Linked DNA regions of Homo sapiens. The protein of the gene in region 3 purifies or fractionates together with the protein of the main gene of each other region. This does not show direct contact. Each region holds a gene or a part of one and is shown on either strand. Other genes may lie near its edges.

Evidence for each region. The genes of interacting proteins can lie anywhere in the genome.
Region 1: the proteins of MYORG (region 3) and ENTPD7 purify together in Homo sapiens (affinity purification with mass spectrometry; 2 studies listed by BioGRID and IntAct, with this or other methods). This does not show direct contact.
Region 2: the proteins of MYORG (region 3) and DNAJA4 purify together in Homo sapiens (affinity purification with mass spectrometry; 2 studies listed by BioGRID and IntAct, with this or other methods). This does not show direct contact.

The regions. Positions count from the first base shown.
Region 1 is NC_000010.11:99,697,483-99,704,508, reverse strand, and holds part of ENTPD7 (ectonucleoside triphosphate diphosphohydrolase 7), read right to left. Parts: intron 5,976-7,026; coding exon 5,651-5,975; intron 3,537-5,650; coding exon 3,451-3,536; intron 1,998-3,450; coding exon 1,836-1,997; intron 58-1,835; coding exon 1-57. UniProt on the Homo sapiens protein: Catalyzes the hydrolysis of nucleoside triphosphates and diphosphates in a calcium- or magnesium-dependent manner. Preferentially hydrolyzes nucleoside 5'-triphosphates, with substrate preference for UTP > GTP > CTP.
Region 2 is NC_000015.10:78,260,730-78,267,561, reverse strand, and holds the start of DNAJA4 (dnaJ homolog subfamily A member 4), read right to left. Parts: upstream 3,001-6,832; 5' UTR 2,806-3,000; coding exon of another isoform or gene 2,799-2,805; coding exon 2,667-2,798; intron 2,082-2,666; coding exon of another isoform or gene 2,028-2,081; exon of another isoform or gene 1,925-2,027; intron 1,345-1,924; exon of another isoform or gene 1,320-1,344; coding exon of another isoform or gene 1,269-1,319; exon of another isoform or gene 1-1,268.
Region 3 is NC_000009.12:34,373,882-34,380,943, forward strand, and holds the start of MYORG (myogenesis-regulating glycosidase), read right to left. Parts: upstream 3,018-7,062; 5' UTR 2,912-3,017; exon of another isoform or gene 2,176-2,911; intron 1-2,175. Other genes in the region: SPMIP6 (sperm microtubule inner protein 6), read right to left, coding at 5,195-5,300, 5,765-5,851, 7,016-7,062.

The DNA.
Region 1 (7,026 bases), on a different chromosome or scaffold from region 3:
AAGGAGAGACGGAACCAGCTACCATGGGCTTGTCGGACACCTTCCTGCCGAAGATCCCTAGGGAAGAATTAAGAATTTGTAGGTGGAAAAAACTGTTAAGTTTCAAAGGGAGACATTTACTGATTTGAAAGGCCCAGTAGTGTTATCACATTTATTCCATCCACATAAACATTTTATGACACCAGCTCCACAGAGCAGGCAAAGCTGAAGAACATCCCCCGCCCCAGGAGCCCTTCTGTGTCTTCCTTCCCACGGCCCCCAGAAGGGACCTCCAGGCTTACACCCTCCAGAATCTAAGCCAAGATGGGAAGGCCTTTGAAATTGAATCCCAAAAAATGAACAGAAAGGCTAGATTGATCACCTGTAACATAAGTCTTAAAATATGGCTTATAAATACAGTACTAATGAGAATAGGGTATCCCCTGAATCCAATAAAGAAATCAGAGTGTGTGTGTCTAAATCCTTTTTTTAAAGTTGCTATGCAGCCAAGTGCAGTGGCACATGCTTGTAATCAAAGCACTTTGGGAGGCCAGGCCAGGAGAATTGCTTGAAGCCAGGAGTTCAAAACCAGCCTGGTCAACATAACAAGACCCCATCTCTGCAAAAGAAAAATCAAAAAATTAGCTGGGCATGGTGGCGAGCACCTGTATTCCCAGCTACTCAGAAGGCTGAGGCAGGAGAATCACTTGAGCCCAGGAGTTCAAGGTTGCAGTGAGCTATGAACACGGCACTGCCACCACACTCAGCCTGGGCAACAGAGCAAGACCCTGTCTCAAAAAAATAATAAAAAATAAAGGTACTATGTTTCCTTAGGATCTAGGATATATCTAAATAAAGCTGTTACCTGATCAACTGTATTACAGTCAGATAAAAATAAGGCGATATGAAAACCAAGTGTAATGGTCCACCTGGCTAGAACAGAAGCCACTCTTCAGCAGTCCAGATCCAGATCTAGTTTTGTCTGGTTTGACCTGCAGTGTTCTTCTAGAATGCGAATCTCTAAACTGAAAGACTTCATAAAAAATATGGATTTCTGACTTTTCTGGACAGATGAGAACTGGCAAATGCTGGGACAGTGCTTGTGTGTGACAGTAACCAGCCCATTAACTGGGATACATGCTCCAGTTGTGGGCAACCCCCACCTAGCCCACTTCCCTCACTTCTGTCGCCTGCCTGGCTGCTGACGGTATTGAGTTTAGAGGAACAGACATCAAAGATACAAAATTCATCTGAGTTTATCTGAAATAGTCCAGGGTACAGGTACCTAAAAATTGTCCCAAATATCTGACAGTACATAAAAGTAAGGTATCAGGCTACCAGAGTTTGATGAAAGTAGCCCCACTAAAAACATCTCACGTCCTTTATTCTAATTCTGACCCACCAAAAAGCCTTCTAAGTCAATGACACAATGTCTGGAGTGCCTCTGTATGTTATGAAAGATTGCTCTAGACATCCTACCCCTGTTCTTTAGTCAGATGTGTTTTCCAGGGTAACCCAAGAATGACATTTTAGCTTGTCAGTATCTTGGAAGTGATTAGTAAGAGCTCAGTCCTAAAGACTGGTTTGTTGTGAGTAAACAAATAAAGCTGGATTTCTGAAACAGCAAAGCTGAGACTCCAGACCAGTAATGCTCAACCTTCTTTCTGTTCGAGCATGCCTGGTAGTAACAGTGGCTCACATGGAAGTAAAGGAGTTTGTTTTTGTGAGGGGGTAGAGAGGAAGGTCACTTAAGACCTATTCTAAGCTGGTTAAAAAAAAAAAGAAAGAAACCGATTCTGAGGCATCAACTGATATCCTCTGAGCTCAAGATACCAGATTGGTCAGTCTTACTTTACCTGAGTGGTAAGAATCGTGTTTTATATAGAATGGCTCCCAGCGTCCACTGAACCTCTCGGTCATACACCAGCTGGGCTGTCCGCAGGTTTGGGTAGTCATAGGGAAAGTGGAATCCTTCATGTAAGACTTGGTACATCCAAGCCGATTTAAAACACTGATATCTGTGTGACAAAAATAATTAAATTTTAAAAAAAGAGAAAAGAATTCTAATACTTTCCTTTGCAATAAGCCACTCCGTATTCCCACAAGTTATTAAAAGACCTACCTCCTCCCGCTTCACCTTCCTCACCTCTAAGTGGGTTATTTCTAAGTCAGCCTACTTATCTTGTGTTTACCACAAAGGCAATAATGATACTGTGGCTGTGTTTTTCTTTTTCTTTTTTTTAAGAGTCCCTATCTTCAGAGAGCATATTAAAATATCTACAAATGTAATTATAGGATGTTTGGGATTAGCTTCAAAACAACCCAGTTGAAGTAAGAGGGGGATTGTGGATGGGAAAACAGATAAAAACAAGATGGGCCAGGAGCTGATAAATGTTAGTAGGAAAGCAGGGTGACAGGTACACAGGAGTTGATTACACTATTCTAGTTTTGTTTATGTTAAAACAATTTTTGTTTTTTTTTGAGACAGAGTCTCACTCTGTCACCCACGCTGGAGTGCAGTGGCGCGATCTCAGCTCACTACAACCTCCACCTCCTGGGTTCAAGCAATTCTCCCTGCCTCAGCCTCCCGAGTAGCTGGGATTACAGGCACCTGCCACCAAACCCTGCTAATTTTTGTATTTTTAGTGGAGACAGGGTTTCGCCATGTTAGCCAGGCTGGTCTTGAACTCCTGAACTCAGGTGATCCACCCACCTCAGCCTCCCAAAGCACTAGGATTACAGGTGTGAGCCACCATGCCCGGCAATTTTAAACAATTTTTAACTAAAACATTTAAAAATGAAAGGACCAATGAACCATACTGGCAAAATGTTATTTGTTGAAGCTGTGTGATAGTTACATGAGGGTTTATGTTGCTATTCTCTCTACTTTTCTATATGTTTGATATTATCTATAATACAAAGTTAAAAAAAAAATCACTTTTGGCCGGGCCCGGTGGCTCATACCTGTAATCCTAGCACTCTGGGAGGGCGAGGCAGGCGGATCACTTGAGCTCAGGAGTTCAAGACCAGCCTGGCAACATTGCGAAACCCCGTCTCTACAAAAAAATACAAAAATTGGCCAGGCATGGTGGCACGTGCCTATAGTCCCAGCTACTTGGGGGGCTGAGGCAGGAGAATCGCTGGAACCCAGGAGGCGGAGGTTGCAGTGAGCTAAGATCATGCCACTGCACTCCAGCCTGGGCAACAAAGTGAGACTCTGTCTCAAAAAAAAAAAAAAATCACTTTTGTTGTCAAATCACTTGTTGAGAACTCTGTTTGGTAACCACTGATTTCTTCTGGCTTTGCTATAATAGGCTCACTATTTTGGCCCCTATCCCTGAGAAAATCAAGTCTGGAATAATCAAATGCTCCCTCAACATGAAATCTAATCTGCATTATTGCTCACTCTCCATTATAATCTGCCATCTAGATTTTAAGTCCACATCTAAGGAGGAAAGGGAAGTAACTTACTTGAGTCGATGCTCATCTGCATGTGATGAAAAGAGGCCATTCTTGAATCTCTGAGTTAGTACCGACCAAGCCATGCCACAGTAATCCTGGATCAACCACAGAGAAATAGTGCAACATGAATTTGGAGGCAAACTCTCTACCTTCCCCACAGTCACAGCTGTTCCATTTCTAAAGTTACTTGTGGGCTACCAGCTGACAAAGGAAAACAGAAATGGTGTGTTCATTCACTAAACACTGCGTCATACCCCTGTTTATTCCCGTCATCCCATGTCTAGCACCAAGCCAGCTTGATGTGGCTTCTGAGCCTCTTAGGCTTCAGAGGGGCTGAGGTTAGGACTAACAAATAGCAACGTCAAAAGACAAAGATAGTTTCATTCTACTCCACATAGGACTGACATGAGCAGGGAGAGCAGATGGAAGAGGATGGTTAGAAACCTGTCATTGGCCTCCCTCGGTGTTGTAATTCTCACCAAAATAATCATTCCTTTTGGTTTGTATGTCTGCTATGTGCCAGGTGCTGTTCTAGATGCCAGGGAATCATGCAGTAAATAAAACAGACAAAAATTCCTGTCCTCAGGAAGCTTACATTCTAGTGGTAGGAGACAGACAATAAACACACACACACACACACACACACACACACATACACACACACACACACACACGGTACGTTGGATAACATAAATGCTCAGGGAAAAATAAAGCAGGAAAGGGCAACAGGTAATATGGGGAGCGTTGTCATTTTGGATAGAGTGGTCCCAGAAGGTGGCTCTGGGAAGATAACGTTTGAGTCAAAGTTAAAAAGGTAAGGGAAAAAAATCGCTTTTACCTGGAAAAGATAATATGTTAAGCCCAATAACTTGAGCCTTTTGGTGTTCAAGGGAATAGAATTTGAAGAAGTTTTGAGATAAGAGAAAGAGTCAGGCCATGGATAGTTAGGGAGCTCTGGGCTCCAGAAAAACAGGGAGCGTGAAGGTCGTCCTGGAGGCTGGAGAGAAAGGAGCAAATACAAACCAGGTGTCCCACAGTATTTCTTAAGGACTGTCTTTTGGGAACAGAACAGTACAGATACTGCAGATATTATTTTGCTGGAAGCCTTACACTAAGAGAACCCTAGAGAATTGTAAGAAAGAAAGAGAAAGGTAGGCAGGGAAGAAGGAGGGAAGGGAGGGAGGGAGGGAAATATGAGGAGAGGCTGGGTACGGTGACTCACGCCTGTAATCTCAGCACTTTGGGGGGCCAAGGCGGGCAGATCACCTGAGGCCAGGAGTTCCAAACCAGCCTGGCCAACATGGCAAAACCCCATCTCTATTAAAAATAATAAAAATTAGCCAGGCATGGTGGTGGGCATCTGTAATCCCAGCTACTCGGGAGGCTGAGGCAGGAGAATCACTTGAACCCGGAAGGCAGAGGTTGCAGTGAGCTGAGATCATGCCAATGCACTCCAGCCTGGGCTACAGAGCGAGACCCCATCTCAAGAAAAAAAGAAATATGAGGACAGATTCTCCCATTCGTTTCTCTGATGAAAAAGATAGAGACACGCAACAATTCAAAGAGATGGCCCTAAATAAAGCAGAAAATGATAGAAAGCTGGCTAAACTTTCATCTGTCCAGGTACCAATGATTTAAACTTATATGATGCTTAAGTCCTATATATGCTCAGAGTGAATTTTTACTCCTCTATTTTAAATCTAAACAAACTTCCACCATCATTGCTTTTTACAACATCTAATATTCCCAGGGACCCCATACCACTCTGCCTCTTAATACCTCAACCCAAAAGAAAGATGGGCTTGCCCCTCTGGGTGATATCATCTCCAAAAGCACATTACAACAGAAAATAGCTAGCAAGAGGAAAAATACTGGAGGTGACATTTCTTGGGCATAAACATTAAACAAGACTATTGGAAAGTTGGAAGAAAAACCATTAGCCAACACAAAAATTTTATGCCTGGGTAATAATTTGGGTGGTATGACATCCATGGAAAATAAATTTAGTTAATTAGAAGGCAGTACAGCATAGCTAGATCCTTAAGTTCTCTGTCCACTTCCTCATCTGTAAAATGAGTGTTCAAAGGGCTCCTGCAAAGAACAAGTGAGATTCTGTATGCAAAGCCCTTTGCACAGCACCTGGCACAGAGTGAGGCATTCAATAAATGGCTGCTGCCAGCATAAGCCATGTTTATCATTAATAATTTACCTGAGCAGCCTTGGCAAATGTTGGCCCATGGTAGCGGCCACCAATGCGCAACACATCCTCTGTACAATAAAAAAACTCAGAGAAGCCGTAGAACTCGCTGTTGTTGAAGTCAATAGGCGATTGATATATGCCATTGAGTGAGGCCTGGCTGGTGTTGGAGCGAGCCAGCAGGGGGCTCAGCATTGCCCCACAAGACACCCAGTCTCCTCTTCCTCGGACATGTAAGACTTGGCTGTTCCTCTCCACCACATCTGTGAGTCCCACTGGCAGGCAGGGATCCAGAAATGGATTGTCGGGACTCAGACCTGTCTTCTGACCAAGCAATCTGCCACAATGACAAAAACAAACAAACAAACAAACACGTCATGCCTGTATTCAACCTAGTCTAAGAAACACAATGTGCATCAGAAATATCTTACTACTGGTTTTCATGATATCTCTAGAAACGAGGATGGAGTGCAATTTCATCACATAAACATTTAACTTCAGCAAGTTAAATTTAGAAAAAAAAGAGAGGAATATGGTGATCAATTCTGTTCGACATTTTAGTCAACATGTGTATTTCCTAGTCTGTAGTGAAATTGGAGATGTGAATCTGCTGTTCTCCATCTGGTCTTCATTCCCACGTACCTCCTAAAAGTGCAAGGACCTTATCGTGCGGAGTGTGGTTCTAATGTTTAAAAATACAACTGGTAGGGGGTGAGGTGGGAAGGACTGTGGGGAGAGATTCCTGAAGAGCAGACCACGGCAGTGGCCCATGTGCAATGGCTGGCAATGGTGATGGAGCCCATGCCTGCCTCTGAATGAGCAGTGCTGGAACAGAACAGGCACAGCACCAGCTCCAGGAAGCCACCTGCAGAGCCTGGAGCCTCTGAGTGGGGAGAAGACTGGAAAGCTTTGATTCCCACCATGGCCGTAACACAGGTCCAGTTATTTTGAGTTTATACTTGCCTAGCAACCATATTCTCATTCCTCAAAATGATGAGTATGAAGATCTGTCCAAGGACAGAAATTAAGTTGGGGTCCAAGTAACTTTGCCAATTGCAGTTAATTATTCATCAGTTCCTAAACAGACAGATGTTGAAGAGTGGACTTCTTAGAATGAGGATGCGCCCACAGGTGTAAAGACCGAGGGTGAGAATGGAATGAGGCAGTACAACAGAACACTTTACAACAACTGGAACCGACTATTTTAAGGATGTGACACCAACTGTAAGGAAAACTCAGAAAATTGTTATTGAGAAGAGACAATGATCATTTTGCCATCTCAGGAAATAGGTTAATAGACTGGCAGCTACACAAGATATGCCTTTTACTCATCAGTCACCTGATGTAGGTGACTTAGCTACTTGGCAAGAAAATACCAACGCATGGGA
Region 2 (6,832 bases), on a different chromosome or scaffold from region 3:
TATACCCCACATCATTGCCCCTAAAAGGGACTATCTTGGTGACCCACTACCTACCACCCATGCATCTTGCAAAAAAAACAAAAAACAAAAAAAAAACACCCGCAGAGAAGTACAGACTCCATACAGAGTGCCCAAAAAACACAAGGTGCCCCAATGCTTAGCAACAGGGGACAACAGGGCAAAAAACAAAGACCAACATTTCAACGGCCTTCTCAGTTTTCCCAGCAAGGGGTAAAGAACTGGTGTAGTCTATTTTTGAAGAGACGTTAATAATACAGTGACGAACTTAGGAGGAAAAAAAAATTTAAAGGTTCTACCTGTGATAAAGTGGAAAAGAACTACACACACATACACACTCACATACACACTCACACACACACTCACACACTCACACACTCACATACACACTCACACACACACTCACATACACACTCACAAAAGGCCTGCACAGTGCACCCAGCACACAGTGGGGACCAGAAGAGGAGGTATTTGTTGAATGAATGAATGAATGAATGAATGAGCTCTCTCTGGGGAACTCTACAGCCGTTTCTATAAATTGTGTCCCCAGTCTCCTCATCCTCTTTGATTTCCGATCTAAATTGCCACTCTCCTCCCAATATCCCTTTCACTGCAATTTCCCTTCCAATTTGTGCCTTTATAGGGCCCTCTCCTCCTACACACAATTTTTTAAAGTGCATTTACTCAGCCAGCTAACAAACATTTTAGCACCTACCCTGCACAGCTAGATACTCACCCCATAAGTGGCCATGGGGGCACAGTCACTGCCCTGCTTACATTATGGCAGGTAATACAGTTATCAAACAAGTAATCACCATTAAAGGAATACAGTTAATCAAACAAGTAATCACCATTAAAGTAGGATGCACGTTGGGCCTGTGGTTCAGTCTATGAGGCAGAGGCAGCCTCCTGGAAGATGTTTTAGCTGAGAACTAAAGAGTTTTATCCCCTTCCATGAAGGTAGAGGAAGGAAAGTATTCCTGGCAATGGGCACATCACAGAACCCTTCCCTCCAAGCTGATGGGCCTGCCAGACCTCACTGCCAAGGGCCTCATTTATGTGACACTAACTCAGTGCCTGGCTATGAATAAATATTAGTTTAAAACAAACCAAACAACCTGCCCAGACAGGTATAGACAGGGTGAAACCTACACATATGTAGTACAGGTCAAGTCTAATTTTTTAAAAATAAAAGCTTCAGAACAAAAGCATATTCAGCTCTAACTGTATACACAGAGGCATGAACTTACTCTTGTGAGTGCTGAGATTTGACCTGAATCCAGGGTCAGGCTTTCCCACATGTCTTTAGCCAGCTTGCTGAAATGTGAAATTAGAAGCCTACAAGCTCTCCTTAAAGGAGACTGTCAGAAGCGGACCACAATGAATGTAGGGAGCAGGTGGATGAATCACCAGCACCATGTAAAACGCCAGTGCCTTTAAAAGCTACAGTAAGCCATCTAAATATAGATGAGAAAGAACGCAAGTGAGTAACAGACAAATGGTCTTACAGGAAAGCATTTTAAACTTGTGACAGCCACATTCAGCACATGTGGCTAAATATAAATATTCCATCACTGTTGCCATTCAGCCAACCGTCCTGAAGTAGCTTTCTCCAGCTTGGAACAACTAACACAGACAGGTATTTTGATTCCAGCGTCGTTTCCACAGGTCTTAAATGCTACATGGGTGATTGGTGTGGTTTCAAACGTGGCCCAAGTGACACTGCTATCAGCTACTATAACGGCCCCACCTCTCAAGACCCATGCGGAACAACCAAAGTTTTGTAAGAAAATGGCAAGAAGTGAAAGGAGGAACGGGAGGGTTAGCAGCCTTTCCTTGCAATGCCTCATCCTTCAATTCACCTATTCAGGTGGGTCATGAGCCTCTTTAGAGATAAAAAGCAAACTTTCTGTAAACAGGATGGAAAAGCTTTTAACTTCTGTCTCTAAAATGCAGAGCATTTTCAGTCTATGATTGGTACTTATGATCAACTGTGTGTCACTTGTCACCGAAAACCCAGAATATGAGTACAAGCTGATGTCAGGTTGCAGATGTCCGTGTCCCTGTTTAATAAAGAAAATGGGATTATTCACTATCTGACGCTTTTATCAGGTAGGCAGTAGGTGCACAGAACAAATCCAGCTAGTCATTCTCAAGAGAGGCACGGCGTTTGTCCAAGGTACCAGCTCAGATTAAAGACACTCATCCCTAGGGTTTATGCATCAACAGAGAATATGAGCCAGTCGTTCCCAGCAAGTAAACAACTGTTTGTGTGTGCCTCAGTTTCCCGATTCCCAGGCCGCCTCTCCCACAGGGAACCAACACACCCTATGAGAACTAGTCCGGCGCGCACGGCAGGGGCTACCCAAACACTTGTGGAGCGAATGGAGGAATGAATGGGCTCGGCAGGGACTCGCGAGGGACCCAAGTGCCGCACCACATGCCTCCTCCGCGGGCGAAGCGCCCTCCACCGACCGCGCCGCACGGCGCCCAGGGTCTCCCGCCACCTCTGCCCGGCCTGGCCCCGAGGCGCCTGGCGACAGCCTCCCCAACAAACGCGGCTCAGGTTTCCCGTCGCCTTCAATGCTCCTGGCTTAATAACCCTTGGCCCCTCGGGAGCCCGGCCCGTGCCCCGCGCCGCCCCGCACCTTCTCGCCCTCATCCGGGTTCTTGTCCGGGTGGTACTTGAGCGCCAGCTTCCGATAGGCCTTCTTGATCTCCTCCGGGGACGCGCTGGGCTTCACGCCCAGGATGTCATAGTACTGGGTCTCCTTCACCATCTTGTGTCTGCGGGGGGGGCGGGCGAGGCCGGTCAGAGCGCCCCGGACGCCCCTGCCGGCACCCTGGCCCGCGCCCCTGGCCCGCGCCCCCGCCGCCCGCTCGCGCGTCACGGTCACGGTCGCCGCCGCCGCCGCCGCTTGTAGCTCCCGCCCGCCCCCCGCCCCGCGCCGGACCGACTTCCACGCCTGGCTCCACCGCACTAGAGCCACCGGCTCCTCCGCGGCGGGTTTTATTCGGCGCCGGCGGAAGCTTCCGCAAGGAGACGGTGACGCCACAAAGGCCTAGAACCTTCGCGGAGGTTCCGGCGGCCCCGCGGCGGGTTCGCGGCCCAGACCCCCGACGCCCGTCCGGCGCGGCCCAGCCGCTCACCTGGGCTTCTCGGGCGTCTGCTCCTTTGGCTGCCCGTCTGATTCCCCGGAGCTCCAGCTCTGACTGCCGCCCCGGGCCATGGCGGGGGCCGGAGAAGGCGGCTTGGGCCTGGAGGGCGCCCTCCGACAACTGTCCCGCCGCCCCGAGGCCGCCCCCTTGCCCTTCCGTGGGTCCGTGGAGCCGGCTGGCTGGAGAGTAGGCGGCCTGGAGGGCTGTGTTGGCCGGAGCCCTGCGCCGAAGGGTGGGACTGGGAGAGCTGCGCCCTGCGGTCCCCACCCGGCCTCTCCCCGGGGGTGTGGCCGCCGTCTGTTCGGTCACAGCCAGGCTGCGGCCTAAGGTGTGCCTGGGATTGTTGCATTTTTTAGGGGGTTGGAGTGGGTAGGGGCCCTCTGCTGCCTCATGACTGCAAGGCTGAGGTGAACCTCTGGCCTTCCAGTTGAGGTACAGGGGTCCTTTGCTGGCCCCAGATGTGGACAGTATCCTCTCGAATGCCCACCACTGGGAACCCTTAAGTCCCTCAAGGTGAGCAGTGACGTCCCCCACATATGGGCAGTGACGCCCCCCAAGTCTGCCAAGGGCCGACAGTGCCCTCTCTTCTCCCAGAAGTGGGAAACTGCCCCCTCTCCTCTGCACATCATCAGTGAGCAAACATCAGGGCCCGACCAGGCTGTTGGGCCCAGTGTTATGCACAGGGGGTCCCATGGCCTGGACCCTGAAACGGCTAGGTGGCCCAGGATGCTTGCCTTGGAAGGGTACAGGAGTAGGTCCCGACTTCCCTAGGCTGCCCCCAGCTCCCAACGGGTGCTCAGGGAGTCCAGATCACAAACCGTTGCAGAAAAGTGGGCGTGGAAAGCAGGCCCCAACGCTATCACAGAATTGCAGGCCCCTGTCCCCTAGCCCTCCCTTGGCTTCTGCCAGGGGAACAGTTTGTCAGAAAGGGGGGTCACTGCTCACCTCCCTGGGATGCCCTGGCCTTGTTTTGGGTACTGTGGCTGAAGCAGGTACTACCTCTCCTCCATGTGTTCCATGGGGGTGAGAAGTGACTTGTACTGTACAAGAGAAATTAAGCTGCTCTTCTTGGAGATGTTGCTTTTTTTTTTTTTAAATTATGCCTTGTAGAGCAGAACCTTTAGGCAGAGAACTCAGAGCTAGAGGTCAGAAACTTTGTTTTCTATCCAGATCTTACTGTCTGAGCCTTAGCATCTCAACACTTTTCTTCGTCAGCAGGACATGGGGATTGCCACTTGCCTGCCTTTCTCACAGGGCTCTTATAAGCATCAAATGGGATGATAACTGTGAAGACTCCTAGCGCAGTGGGTCTCAAACCTGGCTCCTGACAGAGATCACCTGGAATCTTCTAAAAATCCCTCTGGGTTGCACTCCACACCTGTTACCTTAGAGCTTCTAGGGGTGAGGCCCAGGCATCAGTGTTTTTCAAGCTCCCCAGGTGGTACAGCCAGAGCCGAGATCCACTGCCCAGGGTCACATACTTGTCCAGATTTAGTACTCGGGACCATAGGCATTCGTAAAATGGGCATGTGCAGGAGAGGGATGGCTTAAAGACAGAGCCTAGAAACATAGAATGGAGCTATGCACTTTGGACGACAGTGAATTCTGGAACCAGTGAGACTTAGACCTAGGTTCAAATCCCAGCACTGCTACTTCTGGCTGTGGAACCTTGGGCAGACAACTTAACCTTTCTGAGCCTCAGTTTTCTTAACCTTTTAATGAGGATATTAATTATAACTACTTCATAACTTTGTGAAACACCTGGTATATAGTCACAATATTGATGCTTTTTGGGGGTGGGGGGGTGCGGGCAGGGGCTAAGGTATAGAAGCTGATAGTGATTCTCTTCTTGATGGAACTTAGCCAGGCTCCTATGAGCCCTCTTCTCAACTAGGCTTCAGTCTTGGCCTATAAAGACTGAACAGACAGCAACACAGTTTCTAATAATTCAACGTCACATCCTTAAGATCACCAGTTCCCAGGCTTTTTGGCACCAGAGACCAGTTTCATGGAAGACGATTTTGTCACGGACAGGGTGGTGGGGGTGGGCAATAATTCTATGATGAAGGCCTGGCGTGGTGGCTCACACCTGTAATCCCAGCACTTTGGGACGCCGAGGTGGGCAGATCACTTGAGGCCACGAGTTCAAGACCAGTCTGGCCAACTTGGTGAAACTCCATCTCTACTAAAAATACAAAAATTAGCCAGGGATGGTGGTGCTCGCCTGTAATCCCAGCTACTCAGGAGGCTGAGGCACAAGAATCGCTTGAACCCGGGAGGCAGAGGCTGCAGTGAGCTGAGATCACACCACTGCACTCCAGCCTGGGTGACAGAGCAAGACTCTGTCTCAAAAAATAAAAAATAAATAACAATAGGATTGTCTAGTAAAATCAGATATTTTTGGCCAGGTGTGGTGGCTCAGGCCTGTAATCCCAGCACTTTGGGAGGTCGAAGTGGGCAGATCACTTGAGCTCAAGAGTTTGAGACCAGCCTGGCCAACATGGTGAAACCCCGTCTCTACTAAAAATACAAAAATTAGCCAGGTGTGGTGGCACGTGCCTGTAATCCCAGCTACTCAGGAGGCTGAAATAGGAGAATCACTTAAACCCGGGAGGCAGAGGTTGCAGTGAGCTGAGACTGTGCTACTGCATGCCAGCCTGGGCAACAGAGAAAGACTCTATCTCAAAAAAGAAAAAAAAATGGAGGATGAAACTGTTCCACCTTAGATCATCAGGCGTTAGATTCTTATAAGGAGCATGCAACCTAGATCCCCCGCATGCACAGTTCACAGCAGATTTCAAGCTCCTGTGAGAATCTAATGCCACTGCTTGGTTCCTGACAGGCCACAGACCAGTACTGGTCCGCAGCCTAGGAGTTGGGGGCCCCTACCTAAGGTGACCCTGGCCCCACTACCCCCTCTTAAAGTGCCTGCCTGAGAAAACTCAAGGCTGCCAAAATATTTACTGTGTTTTTGTTTCATCCAACACCTGAGGATAGAGCTTCTGTCTCCCAGTCTCTTTGGGAGAACGGCATCCTAACTTTGGCAATTGGCAGCTAGCAGACACAGCTGGCCTAATGTCACTTACACTGACCAACCCTTTGTCATTTTTCACTTCCCTGATTCTGTTAAACTGCTGCTTGTCCTTCTCCCTATTCCCTCATGTTCTTTTCAAAATGCCCAATTACTTTTCGTACAAATCGATATTGAGCTCAGTTCATACTAGATTGTTTTCCCTATTGCAATAGTTATGACTGATTAAATTCTGTCCTTACAATTTTAACTACTGTTCAGCTTTGTTTATCTTAGACAAAGCCTCTGACAATCTAGTAGATTATTTCCCAGAATTATGCTTGGGAGGATTGGAGGCATTACACAGACATTTCTTATTTTGTCAGTTATGTGTTTATTTTCATGATGACCTTTTCATTACTGCAACTTTTATTAAAAGTGACACTGACTTTCCACTCACAGTAAGCAATGTATGGTTTCCTTTTTATATTCTTTTAAAAAAGAGTAGATAAATAGTAAGTGTATGATAGTACCTGTAGTACAAGAATAAAGCAACAGTGGTGATACTTGAATGACAGAAATTTGGGAAATGCTGATCCAGTTCTACCATCTCATTCTACAGTTGGGGAGACTTTTAGACAAAGA
Region 3 (7,062 bases):
TGAAGAAGACACCCAAAGCCAGACTTAGTCCCAGGGCCTGGTTTGGAGGGAGGTAGAGTTGGGTTCAGACATTAGGGCCTGGGGCAGGAGCCTGGCATGGGGGGCCAGTTGTTTCTCACATCTGCTTCTCTTTGCCCTCAAACTCACCCTGCTCTCAGCCATCATCCATCACCAAATCCATTTCCATGCCTGCCTTCCTGCTTTGCTCCTGGCACCACATCTGTGGGCCAGCTACTTCCTCGCTCTGTTTCACCCACTGTCCTGTTTCTGTCATAGTTTGGGCACTGTCACTTCTCCCCTGTATTACCAAACGCTTCCCCCAACAGGCCTCTCTGACTCTAACTTCTTTCTCACCAGTGCCTTCTGATCACGGCAACCATAGTGATCTTTCTAAAGCACTTATCAAACCATATCTATCCCTAGCTTCGAGAGCTGCTCATTGCTTCCATGATGAAATTTAAAAGTGTTTGCTTTGCACTGGAGGCTCCAGGCATGATGTGTTCTCAGCTACCATTCTGATTCCATTTCCAGCCAAGCCTATCTTGTGATTACCAAGCTCGTTCCTTCCCCAACCTAAATCCTTTAGGCCACCTGCTTCAGGAGATTTCACCCACCTAGCTTGGCCCAGCGCACCTCCTCCACCTACCTGCTCTCCAGGGATCAGACACCCACCACTACCACTAACACACATAAACTCTGACACACTATATGCTAAATATCCAGATATGAGGCCATGCACGGTGCTCATGCCTGTAATCCTAGCACTTTGGGAGGCCAAGGAGGGCAGATCTCTTGAGCTCAGGAGTTTGAGACCAGCCTGGGCAACATGTTGAAACCCTGTCTCTACCAAAAATACAAAAAAAAAAAAAAATTAGCCAGGCATGGTGGTGTGCACCTGTAGTCCCAGCTACTTGGGGGGCTGAGGTGGGAGGGTCGCTTGAGCCCAGGAGGTCAAGGCTGCAGTGAGCCAAGATTGTGCCACTGCACTCCAGCCTAGGTGACAAAGTGAGACCCTATCTCAAAAAAAAAAAAAAAATACAGATATGACTACAGGGAAACACAGGCTCAGGGGAAGAGGTGTGTCCTACTCTGCCACTCAAGGCCACTGACCGTTCCTGTCCCAGGCTTCAGAGCAGAGTCCAACAAAGAAATAGCACCACCCAGGTGCACACACGGGCATACACACAGCCAGCCAGTTGGTTGCCCAACTGCTCCAGCTCGGGGGAAGAAGAGAAGGAGACTAGCAAACAGTAATTAGCCTCCTCCCAGATGCCAGTGTCTGTCTCTAAGTCCCCAGGGACTTCCAAGGAGATGCCGGAAATACTCAGGTTTTTCACCTCCCCCATGCAAGAATGCAAGGTGTGGAGCAGAATTTGATCCTAAATGTCAATACACAGCTCCTCCCATAGGCACTTCCCACACGGTGCTAGCTCAGGGCCTCATTCTCAGTGCCCTCTGCCCCCAGCTGCCTAAGCTTGTCAGCCCTAGCTGGTCTGGAACAGACTCTTATTCCCTTTCTCTCAGTCTACAATGACTTAGCTTTCCTCCCCATTCCTATATAGATACAGCTTAGAAAACACCTCCTGGAAAATGCAGCCAGTGGCCTTTAGGTGATGCCCTCAAGCTGAGCAGAACCCAAAGAAGGCTTTAGGTGGCTCAGATCACACCTGTGAGTTTATATTCATTCATTCAAGATAACCAAAGCCCTATTCTGGGCACCAAGGAAATAAGGAGAGAGAGGGTCAGTATCTGAAGAGGAGAGAGACTTCCTCATCCTCAAAACTTTCATATGAAGTCAGCCTATCTCATGAGCCCTGGAGGCAGGAAGAGGCCACCAAGGTGGATTCAAAAGCCCTTTCCGACAGTTATGTTTTGAGAATCTTAATTTTCTGGGATCTGAAGTTCTTTGATGAAAGACAGAAGCCCACAGGCCTGGGCACCCACCCACCCCAGGCACCATGATAGTGTCCCAAATGTCACCACAGCATCCAGTTCTATCAACAATGTGGAACAGCAGACATAGCTGCAGTGTCCATTTTACAGGTGAGGAAACGTGGCCCAAACAGAAAAAGGAACTTGTCTGAAGTTAGCCAGGTATCAAGGCTGCCTGGATCTAAAATCCCAGCCCAGCTCTCCACAGTGTAAGTTTTAGGAGATGGGAGATAATGATCTGACCTGGCTGCCTGAATGCAGTAGCAGAAAGGAGCCCTGGGGCTGAGCTGGTGGGACCAGCTTCCATCAGATGGACATGGCATGGTGAGGCCTGTCTTTCCAAGGGCTGGTGCTGCTGCTTGCTCCACGCGGACCACGAAGACCACGAGGGCAGCAAAGAGGGCAATTTTAATGGCATCTGGTACCGGGGCTTTGGGGGAGGAAGTCTGTGGTTCCGGTGTTAACAGTGGTGCCAGAGACCTCTGTAATCTGCCGCCTCCGCCAGGTGGAGTCTGGGCTCTGCCCCTGCTGAGCCTCTCCCCACCGGACACTCAACCTCAGCCTTGGCTGCCACAGCTAGTCTGGTCTGAGGGGGAGGGCCCCGCCCGACTCAACTGAGGGGAGGCCATTCCAAGTAGAATCGTTAGTTGGACACAGTTCCCGGGGGGATGGAAATGTCAAAGGCAACTCGATCCGGCCCATCTCCCTCTCCTGCCAGGCGACGGTATCCGCGGGGATCGAGTGACTGCCTACATAGCCTGGAATACTCCACAGCCGCCCTCCCTACCCCGCCCTGAAGGCTATACTGTCCGAAGGGGCCGACCGAGGTCAAGGGACCTGTCGCCCCGCGGGAATCGCGGCCGTGGGATGGGCCCAGGTGTTCAGGCTCGCTCCACCCATTCATCGGTGGGAGCGAAAGTTCAGGAATCGTGCTCCTTCAGCAGCCCCCCGCCCCCCACAGCCCTCCCGCTGGGCTCACCCATTGCAGTTACAGCCCGGCAGAAGCGGGGGTGAAAGAGCTTCCCGCCGATCCCCTGCGCTTGAACCAGAGTGAAGCTGCCGCCGCGCCGCGCGGGGCTCTGTCTGGCAGGGCACAGCCCCTCCTCGGGTCCCGCCCTGGGGTTCCTCGGCCACGCCCCAGTCATCCAGTCTCGTCTCGGGCCTCAGAGTCCAGCCCTGCCCTTGACGTTCGACCCCTCCTCCCAGGTTATCAGGCGGATCTGTGGCCCCGCCCCTCAGCCCCACCTTCCTCCCACCGCTCTGTGCTCTGCCCCTGGCATTTCAGGCTTGCTCAGTCCTGCGCCCCGCGGCTCCGACTCCCGCCGGCGGGCCCGCCCCTCCTGGGCCACTGCTAACCCGCAAGCGGGCGGGGCTCGGCCCCAGGCCTGCTGGGACATGTAGTTCTGCAGAAAGGAGCAGCTGCGGAAGGTTGGGGTTCTTGCACCTCTAGGCTAGGTTTGGAATGAGGATGAGAGGGAGAGAGCTGCAGGGTAAAGGAGCAGAGCTGGCCATTGGAATTCCTTCCTTCCCGGTTTGGACAGGTGGAGGCCATATCGGTATAACGCTCTCACAAGCCCTCAGCTTTCCATACGGAAAAGTGGTGGCGGAATTCCGCGAGTATCTCAGCTCCCAATGCAGGTGCTTCCAATCGAGGGCCCCACGGAGGGAGCTGTAGTTCCAACCCGCCGCGAGTCCAAGCTGTCGGTTCCCACCGGACCAAACCAGCGGTGTCCGAGGTCAGGGACTGAGAAGACCGGTTTCTGCTCGGTGTTTTGCAACGTCACCCGCCTCCCAGACCGCTACCCCCAGACTAGTTATTTATAGGGTCCAGCCCCTCCTCCTAAGTTACAGCCTTTAGTTAGAAATGCCCAAGCTGCGGGAAAGTGGGTGTGCCCCGCCATGCCCCTCTCCCCGGGGGCTGGGCAAGACTCTGAGGTTTCATTTCTTTTTTATTTTATTTTATTTTTATATTTATTTATTTTTGAGTTTCGTTCTTGTTGCCCAGGCTGGAGTACAATGGCACGATCTCAGCTCACTGCAAACTCCGCCTCCCGGGTTCAAGCAATTCTCCTGCCTCAGCCTCCCAAGTAGCTGGGATTACAGGCACGCACCACCGCGCCTGGCTAATTTTGTATTTTTAGTAGAGACAGAGTTTCACCATGTTGGTCAGGCTGGTCTCAAACTCCTGACCTCAGGTGATCTACCTGCCTCGGCCTCCCAAAGTGCTGGGATTACAAGTGTGGGCCACCGCGTCCGGTCTTTATTTTTTTGAGAGAGGGTCTCGCTCTGTCGCCCAGGCTGGAGTGCAGTGGCGTTAACATAGCTCACTGCAGCCTCAATGTCCTTGGTTCAAGCTATCCCCTCCCGCCTCAGGCTCCTGAGTAACTTGGACCACATGTGTGTGCCACCATACCCTGCTAATTTTTAAATTTTTTTGTAGAGAAGGGGTCTCTTTATGTTGCCCCAGCTGGTATCGAATTCCTGGGCTCAAGTGATCCTCCTGCCTCTGCCTCCCAAAGTGGTGAGATTACAGGTGTGAGCCTCTGCACCCAGCTGGTTTCATATCTATTTGATGCAGAAATAAAAATACTGAAGATCACAGAGATTTTAGAATGGCCCCTTCTCGCTCCCTGAGGGGCAGAGAAACAGGGCTTTGTTTTGCAACTTGAAATTTCTTTGTCATGAGACCCTCCAAAATTATGTTTTGACCAGTTGGACTTGGAATGGGGGACACACCTTGTGCAGCAAGGGTGTCTGAGCACAGAGAGGCTTTTGGGAGGCTGTGATGGGGACTCCTGGAAGCAGAGATCAAGAGCTTTGGGTGTAGGGATAGGTCTTTGACTGTGGAAGGAAGGATTCTGGGTCCTCTGATGAGTGGGAGGGCATCTAAGTTTGGGAGCATACTGAAGAAATGTTAGCTGGAGGGTCTTCGTGGGGTGGAAAGTAGATGGCTCCTGCCTGCATTGCAGGGTGGACCCATCCGTTTGGGCTCTGGGATTCAGGGGAGGAGGATAGCAGCTGGATATAAGGCTACTGTTCTGTGTCAGGAGGGCACTCAGGGATGTACTGAGATGATGGGGTTGGAAGGGCCCAGGGAAGGGTGACTTTGAGAAAAATTGCATCTCAGTTGAAGGGGTTTGATAGAGGCCTGAGTGACTGGCCCTTCACTTCCAGATCCTGCTGGGTAAGGACACAGGAGGCAGGCTTTGGGGTTGAAGAGTTTATTTATTGCTCTGCCCCCTTGGCACAGCAAGCCCAGGCTCTACCAGCAACGATAGTCGGGATAGGTCTCAGACACAAACTCAGGATGGATAACATAGTTGTTTCTCTGGGGACCACCAGACTTCTTGAAGTGACTTGTGTCCCATCTACAGGAAGAGATGGGTCAGCCGTTTTGGATCCTCATATGTCAAAGTGAATATCTGACTCCAGTTTGCAATGCTAACCTTATCCCTACACTTTGTCTATAGCACTGACCTTGGGTTCCAATACTGACCTCCTGACCTTAGGTTCTACTGTTAAGTTGCTGATACCCAATATTTCCTCCTTAACATCGACTTCTTACTCATTACTTCAAGCTCTGAACCAACGCCTTTGGCTGTAAGCCCACTGCCAACCTGTAACCCTTCAATACCGGCCTCCTAGCCCTCTCTTAAGGTCCTCTGTCCTTACCACCTTTGACTGCTCCATGCCACTAGCTCCCCCTCGTGGTATGTGCCTGTCAGTGCACCGCGGAGCGTTCTCATCCCGTCTACCAGACATCCTCCCCCAGCCCCGCCTCACCAAGCCTTCAGGGTGCGTGTGCAAATGAGTGTGTGCGCGTTAGACTTACCTAAGGTTCGGATATGGGTAGTATGACGGCGGGGGAGTTGTAACAGCACACTGCATTCCGGGCCGGTGCTCGTAGGGAGGTACACATCTGGAGAAGGAGGAAGCCGCGAGCATGGAGGGGTTGGGCCTTTTGACTCTCATCCCCCGATTTAGACCAAGCCCCTGGGCGGCGCTTCAGGTGTCCGTCCCAAGGCTCGGAAATCCTCCTCTCCTTCTTCCTCACCCTTCAAAACCCCCACTGCAGCACCGATTCGGGAACCCCCCTTGGAAGACTCCCTCCCGGCAAGGCCTCATTTCTGCCGTTGAGGAAAGAGCGCTGGACCCTGGGGAAGGTCGGGCTCCGGGCGTTGAGGACCTGGAACCACCGGATCCCCGCCACTGGACAGCAATTTCTCCAGCAGTAGGACGAGGCATCATTTCTGAGCTTCCTAGAGGCTCAGACACTTTCCCACTCCCCTATGCCCTTGAGAGGGATAAGACTCAGTCTTGCACAATGAATCAGGCTCTCTCGGCCTGGAGAGGGGCGGGGGATCACTATGGACCCCCACTGCACAGCTCTCTGGGCTACCGCGGACAAAGTTCTCCCAGGCTTGGCTGCCGCCGCGTGCAGGACGAATGCCGAGCTGCAGTCTGGGCTCCAGCTGTGCGCTCGGGCCTCAGTTTTCTTAGCAGTAACACGCGAGGGTGCCTACCTCCGCAGGTGGTGCGGGATCCGAGGAGGCCAGAGCCATTCTGGTAAAGTGGTCACCATTTCCCGGCTCACGTAGCCCCCAGGAATGACCGCACCCACTACCGACGGTGACGGGGGACCAGCAAGAGAGGACATTTTTCTGAGAACGCAGGGCACTCCACAGGCTAGAACCTGCGTCTCTAGGGCCAGGAGTCCAGGAAAGGGGGCAGGGCCAAGGAGATGGGGGAAGAGGATGCGACTGATGTGCGGGGTTTCTTCCTCAAAAACCCTCTGACGGGACCTCCAGAGCATATAGAGAGGCCAGGTTGACCTTGAGCCCAGTTTGAGAGGGACAGGGGTCGGGGACTTGGAGTAACCTTCGTGCTGGTTCTCCCGCCTCAGTTGTTAGTTCAGGCCTTGGAGCCCGAGGGCGGGACACGGCAGGGCCTCGAGAGCGTGCAGCGCGGGGCTAGAGCAGGCTGGGGGCCTGCACGGAAGCTGGCCGGGCTGGAAGGGGGCGGGGTTCTGGGGCGGGGCTTGTGTGGGGTGGAGCCCGGCTGAGGCGGGCGGAGCCCTGCGAACCTTACAGTCGGTTGCTCCCGGCACCAAGGCCGCAGGCGGCGGTCGGT